Homo sapiens: one gene and its partners. The protein of the gene in region 1 purifies or fractionates together with the protein of each later gene. This does not show direct contact. Each region holds a gene or a part of one and is shown on either strand. Other genes may lie near its edges.

What was found.
Region 2: the proteins of MKX (region 1) and UBN2 purify together in Homo sapiens (affinity purification with mass spectrometry, with the first as the bait; one large-scale study listed by BioGRID). This does not show direct contact.
Region 3: the proteins of MKX (region 1) and HSH2D purify together in Homo sapiens (affinity purification with mass spectrometry, with the first as the bait; one large-scale study listed by BioGRID). This does not show direct contact.
Region 4: the proteins of MKX (region 1) and BEND3 purify together in Homo sapiens (affinity purification with mass spectrometry, with the first as the bait; one large-scale study listed by BioGRID). This does not show direct contact.
Region 5: the proteins of MKX (region 1) and LEMD2 purify together in Homo sapiens (affinity purification with mass spectrometry, with the first as the bait; one large-scale study listed by BioGRID). This does not show direct contact.
Region 6: the proteins of MKX (region 1) and NAP1L4 purify together in Homo sapiens (affinity purification with mass spectrometry, with the first as the bait; one large-scale study listed by BioGRID). This does not show direct contact.

The regions. Positions count from the first base shown.
Region 1 is NC_000010.11:27,735,600-27,739,691, reverse strand, and holds part of MKX (homeobox protein Mohawk), read left to right. Parts: intron 1-4,092. UniProt on the Homo sapiens protein: May act as a morphogenetic regulator of cell adhesion.
Region 2 is NC_000007.14:139,282,956-139,287,047, forward strand, and holds part of UBN2 (ubinuclein-2), read left to right. Parts: intron 1-68; coding exon 69-1,619; intron 1,620-4,092.
Region 3 is NC_000019.10:16,146,471-16,150,562, reverse strand, and holds part of HSH2D (hematopoietic SH2 domain-containing protein), read right to left. Parts: intron 1,840-4,092; 5' UTR 1,813-1,839; coding exon 1,688-1,812; intron 1-1,687. UniProt on the Homo sapiens protein: May be a modulator of the apoptotic response through its ability to affect mitochondrial stability. Adapter protein involved in tyrosine kinase and CD28 signaling. Seems to affect CD28-mediated activation of the RE/AP element of the interleukin-2 promoter.
Region 4 is NC_000006.12:107,108,720-107,112,811, forward strand, and holds part of BEND3 (BEN domain-containing protein 3), read right to left. Parts: intron 1-4,092. UniProt on the Homo sapiens protein: Transcriptional repressor which associates with the NoRC (nucleolar remodeling complex) complex and plays a key role in repressing rDNA transcription.
Region 5 is NC_000006.12:33,775,516-33,779,130, forward strand, and holds part of LEMD2 (LEM domain-containing protein 2), read right to left. Parts: intron 2,873-3,615; coding exon 2,727-2,872; intron 1,725-2,726; coding exon 1,623-1,724; intron 1,542-1,622; coding exon 1,439-1,541; intron 1-1,438. UniProt on the Homo sapiens protein: Nuclear lamina-associated inner nuclear membrane protein that is involved in nuclear structure organization, maintenance of nuclear envelope (NE) integrity and NE reformation after mitosis.
Region 6 is NC_000011.10:2,981,883-2,985,974, forward strand, and holds part of NAP1L4 (nucleosome assembly protein 1-like 4), read right to left. Parts: intron 1-4,092. UniProt on the Homo sapiens protein: Acts as a histone chaperone in nucleosome assembly.

The DNA of each region.
Region 1 (4,092 bases):
GGACATTTTTAAATTATGAAGTAGCATTTGTCATTAGGAGAGCCATTTAAACTTTCTTATGTAGTGGTTTTTGTTGAGCTGCAATACAAGTAGTTATAATTTTAAATTATTTGCCACCTGTAATGATAGTTCAAATACAAATAAAAATGCTTTTTACATTTAGATCTTGGTAAGGCTATTACATTTTTAAAATATGCTTTACATGAAATTTTCATTCAAAACACTTTTTTTCTCTTACACTAGTGCTCAGAAAATAAAAATGCACAGAAATATGTAATTTTAAGTGGGGTAAGATAATTTTTATAATAATAAATGACAACTGTATAATGATTTCAAATTTTATTATTAATGAAGCTAGTTTCTGAAACTTTAAAGTGATAAATGGAAAAAATAAAAATGTATAGAATTACCAACGGATCTTATGGCTGATCCTATGGCTGATCATTGTTCAAATGCTATAGAAATACACTCTGTACTCTCAAAATATAAACAGCTTTATTGTGGAATAGTATAAAATGGTATGTGATTGGGGTTTGTATTATTGCAGGATATGGAACTTATCAAGGAGTAATGAGTAGATGTTAATGCTTCCTCCTCTAATAATGAAAGTCTCATATTCCTGTGATATGTCCACATACGATTTGTTAAAACTGCTATGTTCCTAGATTCTGTCTCCTCTGTTGACATAACTCTGTTTTTGCTTGGTATTGAGTGTGCCTGCTGATATATATATGCCATTATCAGCTACAAGGCTTATAGTAACGTTAAATATTCAACAAAATCTCAGATCAGTCCTTATTCATTATTCCAAGTGTTATATTACATGGTGTGGAAATGAAGTGCTCAATATTTCAGTTGAATAGCTCAGAAGTTCGTTAATTCAGTGTGTTCAAACATGGACAGATGCCAGTTTATCCCTTTGGGTGTACTATAACAATTGCTCTGTCAACATGATGAATGTAAACACCTTTGTTAAAGTAGGATGAATATTATTTAGTTTTCCCTCCCAGCTTCTAGATGTTTGGCCTTCTAATCTTTCACTATAAAATATGGGAGATAGATAGATAGATACTGATATAAATCATAATTATATAAATTAGTCATATCTAACTATCTCCCATATTTTATAGTGAAAGCTTAGAGGCCCAAACATCTATACGTATATACACATATAGCATTCAGTTTGACATTAAAATTCTGTTCCAGAACCTATCCTTGGTTAAGGAGACCTGTTTCATGTAAAATACAATTTGAAGAGAATATGAACGACAACCCGAAGGAATCCATAGTAGATTAAAAGTGGAAAATTTGAACCGATATTTTTACCTTCAGTGAAACAGATGGAATTTGCATTAATTCATCCAGAAAGAAATGCAAAACAAGTATATGCAAATTTGTTAACTAACTATTTGCTGTTTGCAGGACCTACTGCAAATACACATTAAAGACCTTGGAGTGTATCTAGCTGTTAAGTTGTACTGAAAAAACAAAAGAACAAAAAACCCCAGCAGAATATATATATTACCAGATTGGGTGGTGGTCAATTTATGAAATCAGTTTTGAAACAGTCTATAATAGACATCAGCAAACCTTTCTGGAAAATCACCTAATGTGTAACTATTATAATATGGTTAAAAAAAAGACTATGAGTATATAAAACTTAAAAGAGATATGACTCCTATACATGAAAAGTTAGTTAATCCCCTGTGACATTTAAATCATTTAAATGTTCCCCCATTTTTATCTGTTAGAAGGGTAGTGTATTACTTTTTTAAAAAATTAGAAGGCCATTGCATTTTCATTATAAGAAGAGTTTCATAAGAATTGGATTTTACACTGTACTATGTGTGGTTGCTGTGTGAAGATTTAAGGTTAGTTAAGATTTAAGGTTAGTCTGAATTATATCCCATTGAGTAAAGAAAGTTACAAAAATGTTTTGGAGTTGGATTCTAGTAAATATGAATGATCTAGGGGAAGTTGCAGGCTGTACTCTGTGTGTGAAAGGAGCAAAGAAGGACAAAAACACTCTTGCTGGAGACAGTACTGGTCAACAGAGGGAGGTTAGTACCTAGTATAAAGGAAATTAACATTGCTGTAGGGGAACTTGGGATGTATTCACCCATCTTAATTTTTAGAGCTAGCAAGGATATTAGGAACCATCAAATCCATTTTAGAGATGAAGGATTCAAAGTTCAGAAAAGTTGAATAATTTATCCAAATTCACACAGCATGTTTTTGGCAAATTCAGAACAGGAAGCCAGGCCCTCTTCCACTGTATGGTGATTATGGGATAACAGGACATTTATGAGGATTTGAAGAAGTGAAGTGACTAAATCAAAATGGTGCATCAATTCTTGAATTTGATGATACTTGCTAAGATCCATTTAAGAGAACAGAATGGAAGACAGGGAAGTTAGAAAGAGAAATGTTTTCAAATTCCCAGCTAGTAGTATGGCTGGATAAAGTAGTCGGATGAAGATTTTGGCAGTGAGTTGAAGAATCCAAGGGAGTTTGAGAAATTTCATGAAGAAAGGGATCAGGCTCCTTGTGCTTCCACAGCTAATGTTCACCAGTGTATCCCAGTTAATTATGTGTAGTTCTTTTCCGCTAGTCCTTCTGGGAGTGCAGAAGACAAAGCTTATTCATTCCTAGGACTTAACACCATGGCTAAAGTACAATAGTCACTCAATAATTTTGTTGTCTGTCTGTAGAGAATGGGAAGGACTGAGAATTTGAAGTCAGACTGAATCTTAGTAATAGTAACATAGCTTAGCAGGAAGAAGCATTGGTGAAGACTGACTTCTGAAATGCCACAGTGAGATAATATGTCATTGCATATAAATTTGAAAGGATAACTATCATTGCTTCAGGTACAAAGAAGACAATATTAACTATATTGAATATTAAATACATATGGGAAACCCACCGTGTGTTTACCCATGAGGACAGGGAGAAAAAGTATAATTTGAGATTTTTTTTTAAGTAGAATAATAAGGACTTGAGTAATGCACAAAAAATGTGTATTTATAGTATAAATCTAGAAAAAAAAAAGTAGAAATTTCCAGTGCAAACATTGCCACACAAACCATTATAGTAATCTGGCCTTTCTTCAAAGCCTAGCTTAAATTCCTCAGTTTGGTCATGTTCTGGACCAAACTGGCAGAAAGATTTAATTCTCTTCCCATGTTTCATTCTTTTAAAGGCAAGTATTGCCCTTTTGAGTTTCTAAAAATCTATGCACTGATGATAACCTGGTATTTTAGAAGAAATTTCAAGTATCAAATCCAGTAACATCTTTAAAAAAAAAAGAATGGAAGTAGCTTTTCTTTGTCTTGACATATTTCTTTCTTTGCCTTCACCTATTTGTCTAAGAAACATTTGACTTTTGGCTTAAAGTGAGGAGTTCTTTGGTTTATTTTCCCCCTCTTCACCCATGGTTCTACCTCTGTTTTGCTAACGCCTCTTTTGGAAGCGAACAGATCCCACTTTTTTCATCTCTAATGGTTTCCAAAGCTTGGCCCTTGACCCTGCTTTCACTCTCTCTACTCTTGCAACTTTGACTATTACCTCTGTGCCTTTTCCTCTTGAATTTGCTCATCCCCTCCCTTCAATCTCAGATACCACTTTTATTTTCTTACCAGACATGTCACCAGTATTAGCACCTCAAACTAGACATTGCCCAAGCCAAACACATCATTTTATCCTCAGAAAGTTTCATCTCCTTCCCCAAATGCACTACCCTTCTCTTGGTTCCACAGGTTTGATGACTCAAGGTCATCTTTAACTCTTCCCTCTTCTTCAACCCCTACAATTTCTGTGGAATTTCACTTCTATTTGTTCCTGTGTCCTCTTTATTGGGAATGCACTTCCCTTCCCTCTTGACCTGACCTATTCTGGACTTTCTTCAAAGGCTCACTTAACTTCCTCAAAAAGGCTGGAGTCATATATGAAAGTAACCCCTCTTTCCTTTGGACTCGTATCATTTTAATGTCTTGTATGCCATTCATCACATTCTTTCTTATACTAGTTATTTGTATACCCTCCTACTTCTCTTACTGGACTTTTCTCTTATTAAATTTTTTGATGTCAAGG
Region 2 (4,092 bases), on another chromosome or scaffold:
ATTTAAAATTAACTTTGTAATTTTTTATTCACCATTTCTATTTTTTTCCATATGATGCTTTACATTAGGAGTGTAGTCCAAAAAAGGACCAGAAAACTCCAACATCCCTGGTGGCTTCGGTTAGCGGTCCTCCAACGAGCTCCAGCACAGCTGCCATTGCTGCAGCTAGCTCTAGCTCTGCACCAGCCCAAGAAACCATCTGCCTCGACGACTCACTAGATGAAGACCTTTCTTTCCATTCACCTTCACTGGATCTTGTTTCTGAAGCTTTAGCGGTTATCAACAATGGGAACAAGGGCCCTCCAGTTGGCTCAAGGATAAGCATGCCAACCACAAAGCCTCGTCCAGGACTGAGAGAAGAAAAATTAGCAAGTATCATGAGTAAGCTGCCACTAGCTACTCCCAAAAAACTAGATTCTACTCAGACTACACATTCTTCAAGTCTTATTGCTGGTCACACAGGGCCAGTACCAAAGAAACCCCAGGATTTAGCTCATACTGGCATCTCTTCAGGCCTTATTGCTGGTTCTTCCATTCAGAACCCTAAAGTTTCTTTAGAACCTTTGCCAGCCAGGCTACTTCAACAAGGACTTCAGAGGTCAAGCCAGATTCACACTTCTTCCTCTTCACAGACCCATGTCTCCTCTTCTTCCCAAGCCCAAATTGCTGCCTCTTCTCATGCTCTGGGAACATCCGAGGCCCAAGATGCTTCTTCGTTAACACAAGTAACAAAGGTGCACCAGCATTCAGCTGTCCAGCAGAACTATGTGTCTCCATTACAGGCCACCATCAGTAAATCCCAGACCAACCCCGTCGTGAAGTTAAGTAATAATCCCCAACTCTCCTGTTCCTCCTCACTTATTAAGACTTCAGATAAGCCACTTATGTACCGCCTTCCCTTATCTACCCCCTCACCTGGAAATGGTTCTCAAGGGTCCCACCCCCTGGTTTCTAGGACAGTACCTAGCACCACTACCTCCAGTAACTATTTAGCCAAGGCTATGGTGTCACAGATCTCCACGCAGGGTTTCAAATCTCCCTTCTCGATGGCTGCCTCCCCAAAACTTGCCGCATCTCCCAAGCCTGCCACATCTCCTAAACCCCTGCCCTCGCCTAAGCCTTCTGCCTCACCCAAGCCCTCTCTGTCAGCTAAGCCTTCAGTATCAACTAAACTTATTTCTAAATCCAACCCAACTCCCAAGCCTACTGTATCCCCAAGTAGTTCCAGTCCAAATGCACTAGTTGCCCAGGGTAGCCACTCCAGCACTAACAGCCCAGTCCATAAACAGCCCAGTGGAATGAACATCAGCAGACAGTCTCCCACCTTGAATTTATTGCCCTCTAGTCGCACTTCAGGCCTTCCACCTACAAAAAATCTTCAGGCCCCCTCAAAGCTAACAAACTCATCATCCACTGGAACTGTTGGGAAGAACAGCTTGAGTGGAATTGCAATGAATGTACCTGCCAGCAGAGGTAGCAACCTTAACTCAAGCGGAGCTAATAGGACTAGTCTGTCTGGGGGAACAGGAAGTGGAACACAGGGTGCTACCAAACCATTGTCTACTCCACATAGACCATCCACTGCCTCAGGGTCTTCAGTGGTAACAGCCAGTGTGCAGGTATGTATGTTCTGTACGTCCATGTGATAAACTATAAGATTGTATAATGTCGTCTTTCTTGTGGGTAACTTTAATAAGCTTTTTATGATATGTGGATTGTTCTCAATTGGCTTATTACAGCCTGCAGCCATGGAATGTTCCTGATGCTGACATCACAGTGACAGGCACACTTGTAGTTGAGGTGTTTGTTGGGATATGGATTTTTTTTTTTTAAGTAACAAAGGTGCACCAGCATTCAGCTGTCTGACAGAACGATGTCTTCATTACAAGCAACCATCACTAAATCAACTTTAAAATTATTTGACAAAACAAAACTAAAATGGCTTATTTCAAACTTTCTCTCTTATCAAAGTCCAGAACAAAGTAGTAACTTAGGAATTTAACGAACATTCGCTTAGCTCTTCCCTTCCCTTTTTCTCCTGCCAATTTTCTTATTTTTCAATCAAATTTATACATTCATGTTATTTTTTAAATCATTTATCTTCTCGAAATTTTTATTTTGCTTAATTTTGTAGTTATATATAATTTTCTATGTCAAATTAGTGTCAGTCGCCCTTTTATACCACAGTTTTCCCGTTCGTGAATTTTTAGTTTAAACTTACCTCTCAATTAGCTGAGTGCCTCACTCAAGCAATCTTTTCAAGAAGGGTAGCCGGGCATGGTGGCTCGTGTCTGTAATACCAGCACTTTGGGAGGCCAAGGCAGGAGGATCACTTGAGGTCAGGAGTTGCACTCCAGCCTGGGTGACAGAGCGAAACTTCATCTCAAAAAAAAAGGGTAGCATAAATGCTATTTTACCTTAGCTCATGTACACCTGATAATTTCTTTCTGTGCTGTCACACTTGAGTAGGCGTAGCCTTCTTGGGGCACTAACTGTTCCACTCCCAATTTTGTAAATACTACTCCACTGACTCTTGCTTAGTATTTAGGATTATGGAGAAGTCTGAGGCCATTCTCAGACTCTTTCTCATTCTCTTTTTGTTCCGTTATCATTAATGTGTTTTCTCTGCCTAGTTGTCATTAATTGTATACCTAGAACATAGTAATAGCTTTCCATCTCAGAACTGGTTATTTATTTTAGATCAAGAATATTTTATTGTATTATGTGTCTGATTACTGTTTCTGATCCATTTATCGTAAGTTTTTTGAGAACTCTTTATTATATATATATTTTTTATTTTTCCCTAAGACAGAGTCTCGCTCTGTCGTCCACGCTGGAGGGCAGTGGCGCAATCTTGGCTCACTGCAACCTCCGCTTCTCGGGTTCAGGAGATTCTCCTGCCTTAGGCTCCCGAGTAGCTGGAATTACAGGCACCCGCCACCATGCCTGGCTAATTTTTGTATATTTATTTATTATTATTATTATTTTTTTGAGACGGAGTCTTCTCTGTTGCCAGGCTGGAGTGCAATGACATGATCTCGGCTCACTGCAACCTCCACCTCCCAGGTTCAAGCAGTTCTCCCTGCCTCAGCTTCCTGAATAGCTGGGATTACAGGCATGGGCCACAATGCCCAGCTAATTTTTGTGTTTTTAGTAGAGACAGTGTATTGCCATGTTGGCCAGGCTGATCTTGAACTCCTGACCCCAGTTGATCTGCCCACCTCGGCCTCCCAAAGTGCTGGGCTTACAGGCGTGAGCTACCACACCTGGCCTAATTTTTATATTTTTAGTAGAGATGGGGTTTTACCATGTTGACTGGGCTGGTCTCAAACTCCTAACCTCAAGTGATCTGCCCGCTTCCGCCTCCCAAAGTCCTGGGATTACAGGCATGAGTCACTGCGCCGGGCCTATATTTTATCTCTCTGTCTTCCATATCATCTTCTGTTATTGTTTTCATCTCTATGCCACTTCTTTGTATTCTGACACTTTCTCAGATTTGTCCTTTATGTTAATGATTTAGTTTCTTTAACTTTTTTCCCCTGAAAGTAATGTATGTTCATTGAAGGCAAATTTAGAAAAAAGAAAATAAAAATCACCTATTAATCCAATACTGTTTATGCTTTGTAGGTACTTTTTAAGACTTTTTTCAACAAAATGTGTTTTGTATAATATTTCGTTTTATAACCGGCAAAAAAAAAATACCATTTTATGATATGCAAGTTCTTAGGTTCTTAAATATTCTTTGAAAACATAACTTTTATTTATTTATGGAATTGTGTTGTCTAAGGAAGTGCTCTTTGTACTGTCTCCTATTTATGTGGAACAGGAACATGTAATGAGAAGAGTTTCCCCTTGCTGTATGTCAAGGTTTCCTGCTGTTCAATATAGTCTAAGGGTTGATATTCAATATACATTGTATATTCAAATCATCATTCTGCTACTAATGTAGGCATAGGAATGACTGGATGCCAGAATTCTAATGAAGAACAAATTCAGCTAACTGGTAATTCATTAATTGAAATCTAGGATTAACTGATGTTTTATGTATATACATTTACTTTCATCAGAAATAAAATAATAAAAACATTGATA
Region 3 (4,092 bases), on another chromosome or scaffold:
GCCCAGTTAATTTTTTTTTTTTTGAGACGGAGTTTTACTCTTGTTGCTCAGCCTGGAGTGCAGTGGCACGACCTCAGCTCACTGCAATCTCCGCCTCCTGGGTTCAAGTGATTCTGCTGCCTCAGCCTCTCGAGTAGCTGGGATTACAGGCATGCGCCACCACGCCTGGCTAATTTTGTATTTTCAGTAGACACAAGGTTTCACCATGTTGTCCAGGCTGGTCTCAAACTCCTGACCTCAGGTGGTCTGCCAGCCTCGGCCTCCCAAAGTGCTGGGATTACAAGCATGAGCCACTGCACCCAGCCTAAAATTCCTTTTAGAGATGGAGTCTCACTATGTTGTCCAGGCCAGCCTTGAACTCCTGGGCTCAAGCGATCCTCCCGCCTCAGCATTCCAAGTAGCTGGGATTAAAGGTAAGTGCCAGTGCAGCCAGCTGCTTCTTTTAATATAACTACTAAAATTTTTTTAAATTGCAATGTGCAACTCATGTTATATTTCTGTTATTCAGCAAGGCCCCAGAGCTCAGAAACCATGACCAATACTACTTCCTCTCTGTGGCCTTCACAGAATTTTCTCAATTTCCTGCATGCAGAGAGTGGCCATAAATATTTTTTCCTCCATTTAGTTAGAGCCGGGCCCACATCCTCAGAGCTCACAGTCTGAGGTAGAAAGGGCACATTGGGGCCAGGCACGGTGGCTCATGCCTGTAATCCCAGCACTTTGGGAGGCCGAGGCCGGCAGATCACTTGAGGTCAGGAGTTTGAGACTAGCCTGGCCAACATGGTGAAACCTCGTCTCTACTAAAAATACAAATATTAGCCGGGTGCGGTGGTGCATGCCTGTAGTCCCAGCTACTCATGAGGCAGGAGGATTGCTTGAACCCAGGAGATAGAGGCTGCAGTGAGCCGAGATCGCGCCACTACACACCAGCCTGGGCAACAGGAGCGGAACTCTGTCTCAAAAAAAAAAAATAGAAAAAGAAAAAAAAAGAAAGGGCACATTGGTTGTATCCTGATGGGTTGAGAGCAGCTGCTTGGAGTACTGTGTTCAGAAAGATTCTGGCCGGGTGCGGTGGCTCACGCCTGTAATCCCAGCACTTCGGGAGGCCGAGGCGGGTGAATCACTTGAGGCCAGGAGTTTGAGACCAGCCTGGCCAACATGGTGAAACCCTATCTCTACTATAAACACAAAAATTAGTCAGGCTTGGTGGCATGTGCCTGTAATCCCAGCTACTTAGCAAGTTGAGGCGGAAGAATCACTTGAGTCCGGGAGGCAGAGGTTGCAGTGAGCCAAGATTGCACCACTGCACTCCAGCCTGGGTGACAGAGTGAGACCCTGTCTCAAAAAGAAAGAGAGAAAGATTCTGAGGCTGCATGCTGCCATCGTTGATTGGTAATGCTTGGCCTGGGCGAGGTGTGGGGTGCTGCCAGGTCCCTGGCAGTGCTGGTCTGTTGGCCACTTGTATAGAGAAAGCTGAGGCTCAGAGAGAGCAAGTAACTTGCCCCAGGTCACACAGTGAGCCCAAAGAGGTGGCAGGATTCAAGCCTGGGAGCCTGGAGCTCATTTTAGCCTCTTGCCACACTGAGCTGAGCCAAGTCCAGAATTCTGCAGTTAAAAGCTGCCCAGGGTAGGGACAGACAAGGACAGGGTGGGGAGGGCAGGGTGGAGGGTGTGGGTGTGTCCTCACTCTCTTGAGATTGCACCATGGAACCACTCGGGGACCCCGTCTTGGGCCAGCTGGCCCATCTGGGTGTGCACAAACCAGTCCAGCCGTGGGGGTAGCGGTAGGGGCAGCTTCCCGGCCTCTGTCATAGCTTCCTGGGGTGGAGGGAAGGTCACCTGGGTAGAGAAGGGAGGGAAGACAAGAATCAAGCTTGATGCACCTCTTATCTTTGCTCTATTCTTGAAGCTTGTGGTGCCTCCTCCTTTGAGAAGTCCTCCAGGGTGGACAGAGCAATGGACTTAAAACTGGCTTGTGGCTGGGTGTGACGGCTCACATGTGTAATCCCAGCACTTTGGGAGGCCAAGGTGGGAGGATTGCTTGAGCCCAGGAGTTCCAGACCAGCCTGGGCAACATAGTGAGACCCCCATCTCTACAAAAAATTAAAAAATTTGGCCAGGTGCGGTGGCTCACGCCTGTAATCTCAGCACTTTGGGAAGCCAAGGTGGGTAGATCACCTGAGGTCAGGAGTTTGAGACCAGCCCGGCCAACATCATGAAACCCTGTCTCTACTAAAAATACAAAAATTAGCTGGGTGTGGTGGTGGGCACTTGTAATCCCAGCTACTCCGGAGGCTGAGGCAGGAGAATCACTTGAACCCGGGGGGCAGAGGTTGCAGTGAGCCAAGATCATGCCACTGTGCTCCAGCCTGGGCGACAGAGTGAGACTCCTCAAAAAATAAATAAGCAAATAAATCAATAAAATAAAATTTAAAAATTAGCTGGGTGTGGTGGTGCATGCCTGTAGTCCCAGCTACTCAGGAGGCTGAGGTGGGAGGATCCCTTGAGCTCAGGAGGATATGGCTGCAGTGAGCTGTGGTTGTGCCACTGCACTCCAGCCTGGGGAACAGAGCAAGACCATGTTTCAAAAACAACAACAACAAAAAACTGGCTTGTGTGGCTGGGCGTGGTGGCTCACGCCTGTAATCCTAGCACTTTGGGAGGCCAAGGCAGGTGGATTACCTGAGATCAGGAGTTCAAGACCAGCCTGGGCCACGTGGTGAAACCCTGTCACTACAAAAATACAAAAATGAGCTGGGCACAGCGGCCTGTGCCTATAATCACAGCTACTTGGGAGGCTGAGGCACGAGAATCACTTGACCCCAGGAGGCGGAGGCTGCAGTGAGCCGAGATTGCACCACTGCACTCCAGCCTGGGCAACAGAGTGAGACTCCGTCTCAAAACAAAACAAAACAAAACAAAACAAAAAAAAAACCACTGGCTTGTGATTTTTTGGGCACCTACTATGTGCCTGATAGTTTTTACACATTCATTCATTGGCTCATCCCCAAAGGCCTTCAAGGACTTTTCCTTTTATTCTTCTTATGCCATTGTGTTTTTTTTCTTTTTTTTTTTTTTTGAGACAGGGTCTCACTCTGTCACCCAGGCTGGAGTGCAGTGGCCCCATCTTGGCTCACTGCAGCCTCGACCTTCTTCCCTCAAGTGATTCTCCCACCTCAGTCCCCCAAGTAGCTGGGACCACAGGCATGTGCCACCACGCCTGGCTAATTTTTGTATTTTTGTAGAGATGGGGTTTCACCTTGCTGCCCACATTGGTCTCAAACTCCTGGACTCAAGAAATCCACCTGTGTCAGCCTCCCAAAGTGCTAGCATTACAGGTGTGAGCCATTGTGCCCAGCCTTTTATGCCATTATTGCAAGGACTAGAAAGTTCATTTTATAAATAAATGTTTTGAAATTTAAGAATAGAGTATTTAGAGCTGGGCATGGTGGTTCACGCCTGTAATCCCAGCACTTTGGGAGGCTGAGGCAGGTGGATCACCTGAGGTCAGGAGTTCGAGGCCAGCCTGGCCAACATGGTGAAACCCCATCTCTACTAAAAATACAAAAATTAGCCAGATGAGGTGGTGGGTGCCTGTAATCCCAGCTACTCAGGAGGCTGAGGCAGGAGAATTGCTAGAACTCAGGAGGCAGAGGTTGCAGTGAGCCAAGATCGCGCCATTGCACTCCAGCCTGGGGGGCAGAGTGAGACTCCATCTCAAAAAAAAAAAAAAGAGTAGAGTATTTAAATATTAAGTAAATATCAAGGCCCCTGGAGGAATAAGGAAATGACAAAATGGCAAGTGAACGAAATAAACAGCTGACCCAACGGTGGTGGTCAAAAAGGGTTGCCCTGATTTCTTTCTTTCTTTTTTTTTGAGACAGGGTTTCCCTCTGTTCCTGAGGCTGGAGTGTGCAATGGTGCAATCACAGCTCATGCTCACTGCAGCCTCAACCTCCTAGGCTCAAGCAATCCTCCCACTTCAACCTCCTGAGTAGTTGGGACTACAGGCATGCAGTACCATGCCTGGCTAATTTTGAAAATTTTTTTGTAGAAACAGGGTCTTGCTCTGTTGTCCAGTCTGGCTTTGAA
Region 4 (4,092 bases), on another chromosome or scaffold:
GATGCAACTGTGTTTCACTAGTCAGAAATAACTGAAAATCAGACAAGAGGAGAGGTGGCCACAGGTAGAAAAAAAATTAAGAGGGTTGATTGATTGATTGATTTGAGATGGAGTCTCGCTCTGTTGCCCAGGATGGAGTGCAGTGGTGCGACCTCGGCTCTCTGCAACTCTGCATCCCGCGTTCAAGCAATTCTCCTGTCTCAGCCTCCCGAGTAGCTGGGACAACAGTCATGTGCCACCACACCTGGCTAATTTTTGTATTTTTCACTAGAGATGGGGTTTGGCCATGTTGGCCAGGCTGGTCTCGAACTCCTGGCCTCAAGAGATCCACCCGCCTCAGCCTCCTAAGGTGCTGGGATTACAGGTATGAGCCACCACATCCAGCCAAGAGGGCTGACTTTAAATACACGTTTCAACTTGGATTAAAAATTGGTGGGGGCGGGGGGCGGTCTGGGCGTGGTGGCTCATGCCTGTAATCCCATCACTTTGGGAGGCCGAGGTGGGAAGATCACCTGAGGTTGAGAGACCAGCCTGGCCAACATGACAAAACCCCGTCTCTACTAAAAATACAAAAATTAGCTGGGTATGGTGGCACGGGCCTGTAATCCCAGCTATTTAGGAGGCTGAGGCAAGAGAATCCTTGAACCTGGGAGATGGAGGGTCCAATGAGCTGAGATAGTGCCGTTGCACTCCAGCCTGGGTGACAGAGCAAGACTCTGTCTCAAAAAAAAAAAAAAAATCGAGGTGGGGCAGGCATAGTGGCTTACACCTGTAATCTCAGCCAAAGACAGGTTGGAACACTTGACTCCAGGAGTTTGAGACCAGCCTGGGCAATACAGTGAATCCCCATCTCTATAAAAAATACAAAAAAATTGCCGGCACGGTCGCTCACGCCTGTAGCCCCAGCACTTTGGGAGGCTGAGGCGGACGGATCACTTGCAGTCAGGAGTTCGAGACCAGCCTGGCAAACATGGAGAAACCGCGTCTCTACTAAAAATACAAAAATTAGCCAGGCGTAGTGGCGGACACCTGAAATCCCAGCTACTCAGGAGGCTGAGGCAGGAGAATTGCTTGAACCTGGGAGGCGGTGGTTGCAGTGAGCCGGGATCATGCCATTGCACTCCAGCCTGGGCAACAAGGGCAAAACTCCGTCTCAAAAAAATCAGCCAGGCATGGTGGCACAGGCCTGTAGTTCCAGCCACCTGGGAGGCTGAAGTGGGAGGATCGTTTGAGCCCAGGAGGTTGAAGCTGCAGTGAGCTGTGATCGTGCCACTGCACTCCATCCTGGGTGACAGAGTGAGACCCTGACTCAAAAAAAAAAAAAAAAAAGGAAGCTGGGCACAGTGGTGTGCACCCATAGTCCCAGCTACTCAAGAGGCTCAGGCGGAAGCATTGCTTGAGCCTAGGAGTTCAAGATCAACCTGGTCAACACAGCCAGACTCTGTCTTACAAAAACTGGAGGGAGAGCATGGTATCAGGTGACCTGCTGAGAAAACTTCAGCTCTAAAACAATAGTTTGTAAAAGTGGTTTTCATACAAAATTCACAGACTAACATGCCAAGCATTCACTGCCACTCTTAAAACAGCCCCTCTCCTGTTTAACACTCTGAGGGCTGATACTGGCATGGAGAGCTCTTAGTTTGACATGTGTGGGGAACTTGTGGCAGCTAATCCCAGAAACCACAAGAGCTCTGGGTTGAAACAATGATGTTGCAAGAAATACTGACGTATCAGAAGCAGAAGAAGAGCATTATCAAATTTGGAGAAGGAAAGAGACTGTCAGAGCAAGGTGATACAAAGCACCAAAAAAATCAGTTTTTAGCACATTTTTTTGTGTGTGACTTTCTTTTTCTTTTTGAGACAGAGTCTTGCTCTGTCACCCAGGCTGGAGTGCAGTGTGGCACGATCTTGGCTCACTGCAGCCTCCTCCTCCCAGGTTCAAGCGATTCTCCCGCTTCAGCCTCCCGAGTAGCTGGGATTACCCACCACCATACCTGGCTAATTTTTGTATTTTTAGTAGATACGAGGTTTCGCGATGTTGGCCAGGCTGGTCTGCAACTCCTGGCTTCAGGTGATCCACCCACCTCGGCCTCCCAAAATGCTGGGACTACAGGTGTGAGCCACTGCACCCAGTCATTTAAGTTTCATTTTAAAAATTTATCCCGGTCAGGCAGTGGCTCACACCTGCAATCCCAGCACTTTGGGAGGCCGACACAAGTAGATCACTTGAGCTCAGGAGTTCGAGACCAGCCTGGCCAACATGGTGAAACCCCGTATCTACTAAAAATATAAAAAATTAGCCAGGTGTGGTGGCGCATACTTGTAGGCCCAGCTACTTGAGAGGCTGAGGTGGGAGGATCGCTTGAGCCCGGGAGTCAGTGGTTGCAATGGGCCTAGACTGTGCCACTGCACTCCAGGTTGGGTGAAAGAGAAAGACCCTGTCTCAAAAATTCCCAGAGTAAAATTGACTCTCTAGGAGTGTATCATTCTATGAAAGATAACACATGTAGGCTAGGCGTGGTGGCTCACGCCTGTAATCTCAGCACTTCGGGAGGCCGAGGTGGGCAGATCACCTAAGGTCAGGAGTTTGAGACCAGCCTGGCCAACATGGTGAAACCCCGTCTCTACTAAAAATACAAAAATTAGCCGGGTATGGTAGTGCATGCCTGTGATCCCAGTTACTCGGGAGGGTGAGGCAGGAGAATCACTTGAACCCAGGAGGCGTAGGATGCACTGAGCCGAGATTGTGCCACTGCATTCTAGCCTGGGTGACAGAGTGAGACTGCATCTCAGAAAAAAAAAAAGAGAGAGATAACACATACACATCCCTATAAACACCCCTAAAAAGATACAGAATAGGTTTCCCATTCCAAAGAGTAATTCTACAATTAATTCCCCAAGCTTACCTTAGCCAATGATGGGAACAATACAATTAGGTTAGCAACCAAAACCTATCACTTAACACCAAAATTAAGCACCAGGCCAGGCGCGATGGCTTACACCTGTAATCCTAACACTTTGGGAGGCTGAGGCCGGTGGATCACTTGAGGTCAGGAGTTCAAGACCAACCTGGCCAATAAGGTGAAACCCCATCTCTACTAAAAATACAAAAATTAGATGGGTGTGGTGCCACGCACCTGTAATCCCAGTTACTTGGGAGGCTGAGGCAGGAGAATCACTTGAACCCAGGAGATGGATGTTGCAGTGGGCCGAGATCGCGCCACTGCACTCCAGCCTGGGCACCAGAGTGAGACTCCGTTTCAAAAAAAAAAAAAAAAAAAAAAAAATTAAGCACCAGGAAAAAAACACTACATCCCAGCCTCCCATATACAAACACCAAATCATTTTTGCTGGTTGGCTAGCGACCTTCATACTCTATGCTTCTACATTATACAATTTGAGGTCTTTAAACTTTTCATCATGGTGTCAATACAATTCATATAAACATGCTGTTTTCCTTCTCATTGTTTCCAGGGACTTTCTAGGCAGCGCTAAAAAGTAGCAGGTGAGACATTAATATAGGATATTACATTTTCACCTAATCAAACCTGTGTCAGGGCTCACTCCAATTTTTCTCTTTGTAATTATTGGACATTCTGCTATGCTTCTGCTCACACAGGGGTGCTTAGGAGCCAAGAAAGAACCCACAGGGAGAGGATGTAAAGAAAATGTGTCAATATGGCACCTGTTAATAGATTGTTGGGATGCTGACTGTCTCATCTGCCAGTTCCTAACCAGCCTATCGTCTTGCTGGGCATGGAGAAGGTAGGCGGAATCACATAAAACTTTCCCATTATATTAGTTCTTCAGCAAGAAGATGGCATCTCTGGTATCAACAACAACAAAAAAAAACGCTGGGCGTGGTGGTACACGTCTGTAATCCCAGCACTTTGGGAGGCCGAAGCTGGCGAATGACCTGAGGTCGGGAGTTCGAGACCAGCCTGACCAACATGCAGAAATCCCCTCTCTACTAAAAATACAAAACTAGCCGGGCATGGTGGCGCGCGCCTATAATCCCAGTTACTTGGGAGGCTGAGGCAGGAGAATCACTTGAACCCAGGAGGCAGAGGTTGCGGTGAGCCAAGATCAGAC
Region 5 (3,615 bases), on another chromosome or scaffold:
TGTTGTCCAGGCTGGTCTTGAACTCATGGGCTCAAGCAATCCTCCCACTTTGGCCTCCCAAAATGCTGGGATTACAGGTGTGAGCCACTGTGCCTGACTTAAAGTGGACTGCTAACGGCTCTATTTTTCTGATTCCTCTTGGGTTGCAGATAGGGATGATGTTGACAGTAGAGCCTGGTGGCGGGAGCACGGAAATGCCACTAGCCATGGGACTCTTGAGCACATTCCTCTACTTCCCTGTGCCTCAGTTCCCTTATAGGTAAAATGGGGCCACTTCTGTTGTGTGCGTGAACCATGGTGAGGACCAAGTGAGTGAGTTTGCATCTGTGGAGAGCTCCAAGTAGTGCCCGGCTCCCAGGGAGCACTCAGCAAGGGTGAGCTCTCAGCATCACCCAGCAGATGACAGCATCTGGCCAGAAACCACAGCAAGTGTCTGCTAGGGAGGGACCACAACCAGAGCCAACACTGGGGGGGGCCCTGCTGGCTGTCTCCTGGGACTCTGCCCTCCCCCACCCTGGTTCTGTCAGGACCCCAGTGTACAACTCCAGCAGTCACAGCCCATGTGGAAGGTGCCCTGCAGCTGCACATGACAGTGGCCCTGCCACCCCTTCCCATGAAGCTATGTGCCCTGGAAGCTGACCCCATTCATGTTGTGAAACTTTGCTTTCAATTACATGTATATGCATGAGTGTACGCATGCGTGTGTGGGAACTGGACCATGATGTTGCAGGTAACAGGTGTTTTTGACTGCAGGTCATGGTTTAAAAAGTTTGAAAAACAATTTCCTCCTCCTTGCCAGTGACTGATTCATAAACAGACATGTAAGAGATTCTGGTCAATAAAGCCTCAAGGAGTGTGTCACTGGAGGCTACTGGGAACATGTTCTCTTGCTTATAAGACAACAATAGGCCTACTTTTCCCCTGCTGGCTGTGACAAGGCAGACAGTGCCCCAGCTGCTGTTGGCCACCATCTGCAACCATGAGGGACCCCAGTCTGTTGATAACATCCATGGAGGAGTGTGGGACCACGAGAATCACAAGAGCAATGGAACCGGAGACCTGACTGTTCTGTGCCTGGAGCCCATGCAGCTCTGAACTTCCACTTACAGAGACTGAGGAGATCCTTCACTACTTGTGCCCTGGGGGAGGGAGCTGCTATTACTTGGAGCCCAAGGCCTCCTAACTGGTATCACCACTGCCAGTGTTCTCTCTACAGAGGTGTGGGATTGTGCTTTCATATGTCTTTTCTAGCTCATCCTGCCATAAAGAGCCGAGCATGCTGGGGAGCAGCAGGAGTGGGAGCAGAGCCACTCTTGGCCCTGGGGTCTGCACTGCCCTCAGCTGACATCTGATGCAAGGCTCTGGGTTTCCTTCTGGGGAGCTCAGTGGGGTCGGACCCCATCTTACCTCACACCCAGCGCCCCAGCCAGGGACTCACCGGCTCTGTGGAGGGATCAAGCTGTCGCGCACGTGCAGGATGCCTACATATGGATAGCGCTCCATGTCCTGCTCCCAGTCCACGTAATGGTCCTGGACCACGTCTGCAGGAGAGAGCACACCATTTAGGGCAAGGACCCTCTGGCTGGCGTCGGCAACCCTTTATTCACCAGGGGGCCACGCACCTATAATCTTCTTCACCATCTCATACATGGCTTGTTCCTCCTCTTCTAACTTTCGCCACCGATATTTTAGGAGAATTAGGAGCCCCCACAAAAAAGCCAAGCCTGTGAGGGAACAAAACACTGTTAATCCCTCACACTTCATTTGGCAGTGGGTCTCACCATGGACAAGATGCTGTGATGGATGCTGTGGGGGATCCACCACATGGGTTTGGGTACCTACTATGTGTCAGGCTCAGGGCCAGCATGCGAGAAACAAAAGATACAGAAATGCAGAGGGACGACAGATTATTAAGTGATCATCTTCCTCCCACCGGCTGTCACCACAGCGGCATCCCCAGCCGTCCAGATCTCGGCTCCTCCCAACCTCATTCTGGGGCTTTCATCTCCTCCCTTGTGAACCAGAACACAGTGTTTCATACATATATACATGCCGGGGCCCTTTGTATTCCGAGATGCTGCTGCCGATAATGATTTCTGTGCCTGATGGCACAGGGGAGGGAGCTGTGTGCACACTGAGGCGGTCTGTGATTTGTAGCTCCAACTATCTCTGGAAAGCCGTGGTTTCTGTGACTTGGCCTTTCGCCTTCAGAGACGCCCTGAGGTCTCTGCTCAAAGGCGGCCCCCGATGTCAGGGGATAAGACTGGTGCCCTCCTTTCAGTGCAGCACCCTGAGTCCTTCTTGCTTTCATCAGGTATCTGTAGCTCTCCAGGAGATGTTTATATTTTTCAGGGAGTAAAAGTAGGCCAAGCCCCTGCTGTGCCTCCTGCTCGAAGCTGGTCCACACTGGGATCCCTGCAGAGCCCAGAAGGGGTGGGGCCCAGCTCCTGCTCAGGCCAGGCTCCCGCTCAGGAAATCTGACAGTCCCCTGCCCTGAATCAAGGACATTTTCTAGTTATCCTCACGGATTCCTGCCACCAATCTCCAAAGGTAAATACAACCCAGGGCAGAGGCTGACTTGTTCATCTCCTCTGTTTTATGAGACAGACCTCAGGTTCACTAGACAGAAATGAACCCTCCGGGCCTGGAATTTCTATAGCTCATCATTCATGCCTAGGAGTATGCTTGACTGCACAGAAGGGGAGGGAAGGCGGCCGAGGACTTACACCAGAAGAAGATGAGCACGTTGGTGACAGCAGTGAGCAAGGCCCGGCTCAGGCGGCAGCCAACACCCATGCGGGGGTGGGCAGATTCCAGGCAGACCACCTTGTCCACAGTCGTCACCAATTCAGACTGGTCTTCTCCTTTCAACCTGAAACAGGACACAGGGCTCTGAACATGTTGGAAAGCTCCAAGGAGAGGCAGTGCAAGCCCCACTTCAAACAGGAGGAAGCGAAGGAAAGTGGGGACGCAAGGCCTCTACTTGCTTATAGAATAGGCTTGGTATCCTGGCTGCATTCTTTCCAGAAATTTCCCACATTGGCTACTTAGAATGAATAAAGCTTTAAAGACGGCAGCAGGCTTGAACCCCTACCGCTAAAGCAACGTCCCCCTGTCAGGTCTTTGACAGCCTCTCTCAGCATGCAGGAGATTAAACTGTAAATTGGATTCCCACCTCCCAGCATAGAGAAATGGAAATGTTTACTGAATCACTAGCTTTGCAATTGCATGGCAAGAACTGAAAGACAGAATCTGGGAGGTTGCACTTTTCCTCGGTGACAAGGAGGCACATAAGCTGTTTAAGTGTAAAGATCATGGGGCATCCATGAGGCTCATGGGGAATCCGTGAGGCTCATGGGGAATGAAAACCACCAGGCTCTCCGAGGCCAGACCCCAGCCACGGCGCCTCCACCATGGTCTCTGGCCAGGAGGTGTCAGGACCTGCAGAGGTGGGGACACCAGAGCCTTCTTCCAGCTAGGTGACCCAGGGCGAGAATATCATGCTCTTGAGGCTGCATGCTGGAATGGCTGGCATCCCAAGTGTCCTGATTTCTCAGGACCCACTTTCAATATGGTCATCCTGAGCGGCTCTGCCACCCTCCAGGCTGCCTTCCC
Region 6 (4,092 bases), on another chromosome or scaffold:
TTCCTACTGATTCAGGCCCTGTCTACCTCCCCACACTCATTCCCACTCACGCTCCTCCACCATGTTTGCTGCAATCACAGTATTCCTGAGGTTAGTTCCCTTCTCACATATTCTAAATGCAAGGTGTGAGACAGTCAGACTTCATAACAATTGTTTAAGGACAACATTCTAAGAGCTAAAACACCACTTACCAGCTGTTAAAGAATGAGGTGTTTTTTTCTGTTATATACCTTTGATAATGTCTCTATGAACATCTTGGCTTATATGGCTTCCCACTCCCAGTTATCCTTAATTGATATGGCAATAGCAGGACCGCTACAGTAGCATTTCTGGGTCAAAGAGCATGAATGGATTCTGATACATACTGCCAAAACAGTTACACAATAACATCAACTGTAATTTGGCTACTTAATTGAAGCTCTCTATTGCCTAAGAAATGTATCTCATAGCACCTTCCTTACCCCACACATACACACTAATTGCTGAAAGAAGCCTACTAACCTGGAAACATCTAACACTGTCAGTTTAATGGACAGATTCTTGTTGTCATCACCCTATCAGTAACACCTCGTAAAGACACATACTTCATTTCCAGCACCTCCTATACTAGCAAGGGACCTACATGTCAGGCACTTCATACATTTAATACCAAGAGAAACTCCACTAGGGAGGGACTATCCTCAGTTTACACGAAAAGAAGCTGAGGCTTGGAAAGGTGAGGTGCCAAATTGAAAGTCACACGGCTAGTAAAACATGCATTCGTGTTTCAAATCTGACTCCTTCTAACCTTTCCCTAGTACCAACACCACTTCACTTCTGGCTGTTTCTACTTGCTCATTAAAGATTCTGTTGCTGCTAGGCTGGGCCTGGGGGCTAACACCTGTAATCCCAGCACTTTGGGAGGCCAAGGCGGGCAGATCACGACGTGAGGAGTTCAAGACCAGCCTGGCCAACATGGTAAAACCCCGTCTCTACTAAAAATACAAAAATTAGCTGGGCATGGTGGCACTCGCCTGTAATCCCAGCAACTGGGAGGCTGAAGCAGGAGAACTGCTTGAACCCAGGAGGCGGAGTTTGCAGTGAGCAAAGATTGCACCACTGCACTCCAGCCTGGGCAACACAGCAAGACTCCATCTCAAAAAAAAACAAAAAACAAAAAACCTGTTGCTGCTATTGGAACAAGTGACAAGCAACAGCTTAGTCAGGGTTGAAATCCTACTGTTCAGCAGCATCTCCAAGAAATCCATTTTGTCTACAAATGGAGTGTGACAATACTCCCTTTTGATGCTGTTCACTATGCAGCCCCAGAGCCCCTAACAGTTCCTGGCATAATAAATATCTGTTGAAAGCATAAACCACCTGTGTTAGGACATGAGCCAAAGAGGTTCACCTTCCCATGGAATGGTACCTGTTCCAACTTAACAGAGTCCATTGATAAAATGATTCACTCAATTTTCATTTAAGTGAAGGCTGTGCTTTTTTAAAGAGACACACAGTCTCACTCTGTTACCCAGGCTAGAGTGCAGTGGCAGGATCATAGCTCACTGCAGTCTCAAACTCCTAGCCTCAAGTGATCCTCCCACCTTAGCCTCTCAAAGTGCTGGGATTATAGGACAGAGGCACCATGCCCAGCCCGGCATGTGCTGTTTAATACAATTTTTGTTAACAAGATGACAAGGCAGTTAAGTTAAACCCAACACGGTATTCTGGAAAAAAAAAAAAGTGCTAAATCAAGGATAGAAAAAAAATAATGAATTTACACAATAAAAAAGAAAATAATTTTGACTAAAGAACCAACCAACCCAGAACTCAATGCCTAGAACAAGACAGACACACACTGAACAGCCTGGTTTCAAATCCTACCCCTATCACAGATCACCTGAAGCTCAGGAGTTTCAGACCAGCCTGGGCAACATGGGGAAACCTCGTCTCTACAAAAACAACAAAAAAAACAAAATTAGCCAGGCATGGTGGTGTGAACCTGTAGTCCCAATTCAGGAGGCTGAGGCAGGAGAATCGCTTGAGCACAGGAGGCAGAGGTTGCAGTAAGCTGAAATAACACCACTGCACTCCCGCCTGGGAGACAGAGTGAGACTGTCTCAAAACAAAAAGAAAAAAAAAAAAAATGAGGCTGGACACAGTGGTTGATGCCTCTGGTCCCAGCTACTTGAGTGGCTGAGACAGAAGCAACACTCAAGCCCAGGAGTTGGAGGCCTGGCGGCTGCAGTGAGCTATCACTGCGCCACTGAACTCCAGCCTGGACAACAGAGCAAGACCCTGCCTCAAAAAAAAAAAAAAAAAAAAAAAGGCAACAAACCCTACAATGGCTGGCTATGCTCACCACCACGACCACAGCAGCAACCCAAACCCAGCCCTAGTCAGTGAAGATTTAAAAACCCTTTAACAAAGGCCAGGTGTGGTGGCTCCCACCTGTAATCCCAGTACTTTGGGAGGCCGAGGCGAGCGGATCATCTGAGGTCAGGAGTTCGAGACCAGCCTGACCAACACGGAGAAACCCGTCTCTACTAAGAATACAAAATTAGCCGGGCATGGTGGCGCATGCCTGTAATCTCAGCTACTCAGGAGGCTGAGGCAGGAGAATCTCTTGAACCCAGGAGGCGGAAGTTGCAGTGAGCCGAGATCTCGCCATTGCACTCCAGCCTGGGCAACAAGAGCGAAACTCTGTCTCAAAAAACAAACAAACAAAAAACTAACAAACACACTTCAATGGTCCCCCGTCACCTTCTGCAGAATACACATTCCTACCAATTCAGGCCCTGTCTACTTCCCCATACTCATTCCCACTCATGCTCTTCTGCATAACCTTCCTCTGGACCTCAGTTTCATCATCCACAAACTAGAAGACAGTGGCTACCTGAGAAACTGTTAATGGAGACAAATTTCCTAGTACATAACAGCAGGCCAGGTCTCTTTTCACTTTTGTAACTGCCATGCATATAGACTACATCTATTCCTTGATATGAAACCAACAAATCAAGTTACTTTAAACACTGCACCCTTTATACAGGTTGAGTATCTCTTATCTGAAATGCTTGGGACCAGAAGTGTTTCAGATTTTAGAATATTTGTATAAACATGATCAGGTATCTTGGGGATGGGACCCAAATCTAAACATGAAATTCATTCACGTTTCCCACACATCTTATTCACATAGACTGAAGGTAATTTTATACAATATTTTAAATAATTTTGTGCATGAAACAAAGTTTTAACTGTGATCCATCACGTGAAGTCAGGTGTGAAATTTTCCACTTGTAACATTAATGTCAACACTAACGGAGTTTCAGAATTTGGAGCATTTGGATTTTTGATTTTGGGATCAGGAGTGCTCAACCTGAATAAGGAAAGACAATGTAGAGAGGTGGTATTATAAACAAGCTAGAGTTCAGTCAAGTTTCAGCACCACAAATTATTTTTGTTTATCAATCCCTATCACCCTTAAAACAGAAAGTTATAAGGAACTATCAAATATACAGGTTTGAGGAAAATAAATATCTGTTTGTTTTAAATGTTATGTTCAGTTTAATACTAGTCTTATAAAACCACAGCCCGAAGACTCATCCAGAAGGTTCTCTCACTTTTAAAAGGCAATCAAGGGATCTATACAACCTGGTGACTATAGTTAACAACAATGTATCACATAATTGAAAAATTGCTGAGAGTAGATGTTAAGTGTTCTTGTCAGAATCAGTATACCACCTAATGTGAATTAACTTGACTTAGCCATTCCACAATGTATAGTACTTCAAAACATCGCATTATACATCATAAATATAATTTTGTGTTAATAAATAATAACTAAAAATAAATAAAAGACAATCAAGTTAAATTATGAAAGGGATACCAGGCAAAAGAATGTTGTAAGTTTTCTAAAGTTCAGGTTCCCTCCCAAGGTCAAAAACTTTAACTGTGTCTACAATTCTAAATCTGAACTGGCAAGCAAATTTTCACCCAGTTAATTGGGTCGAGGAAAAATAAAATAAAATAATTCCCATGATTACACAAATGTTCTTTTATTTATATTAGTCACTGTAACAATCCTATTTATGGATTAATTTCTTTGTACCCCAA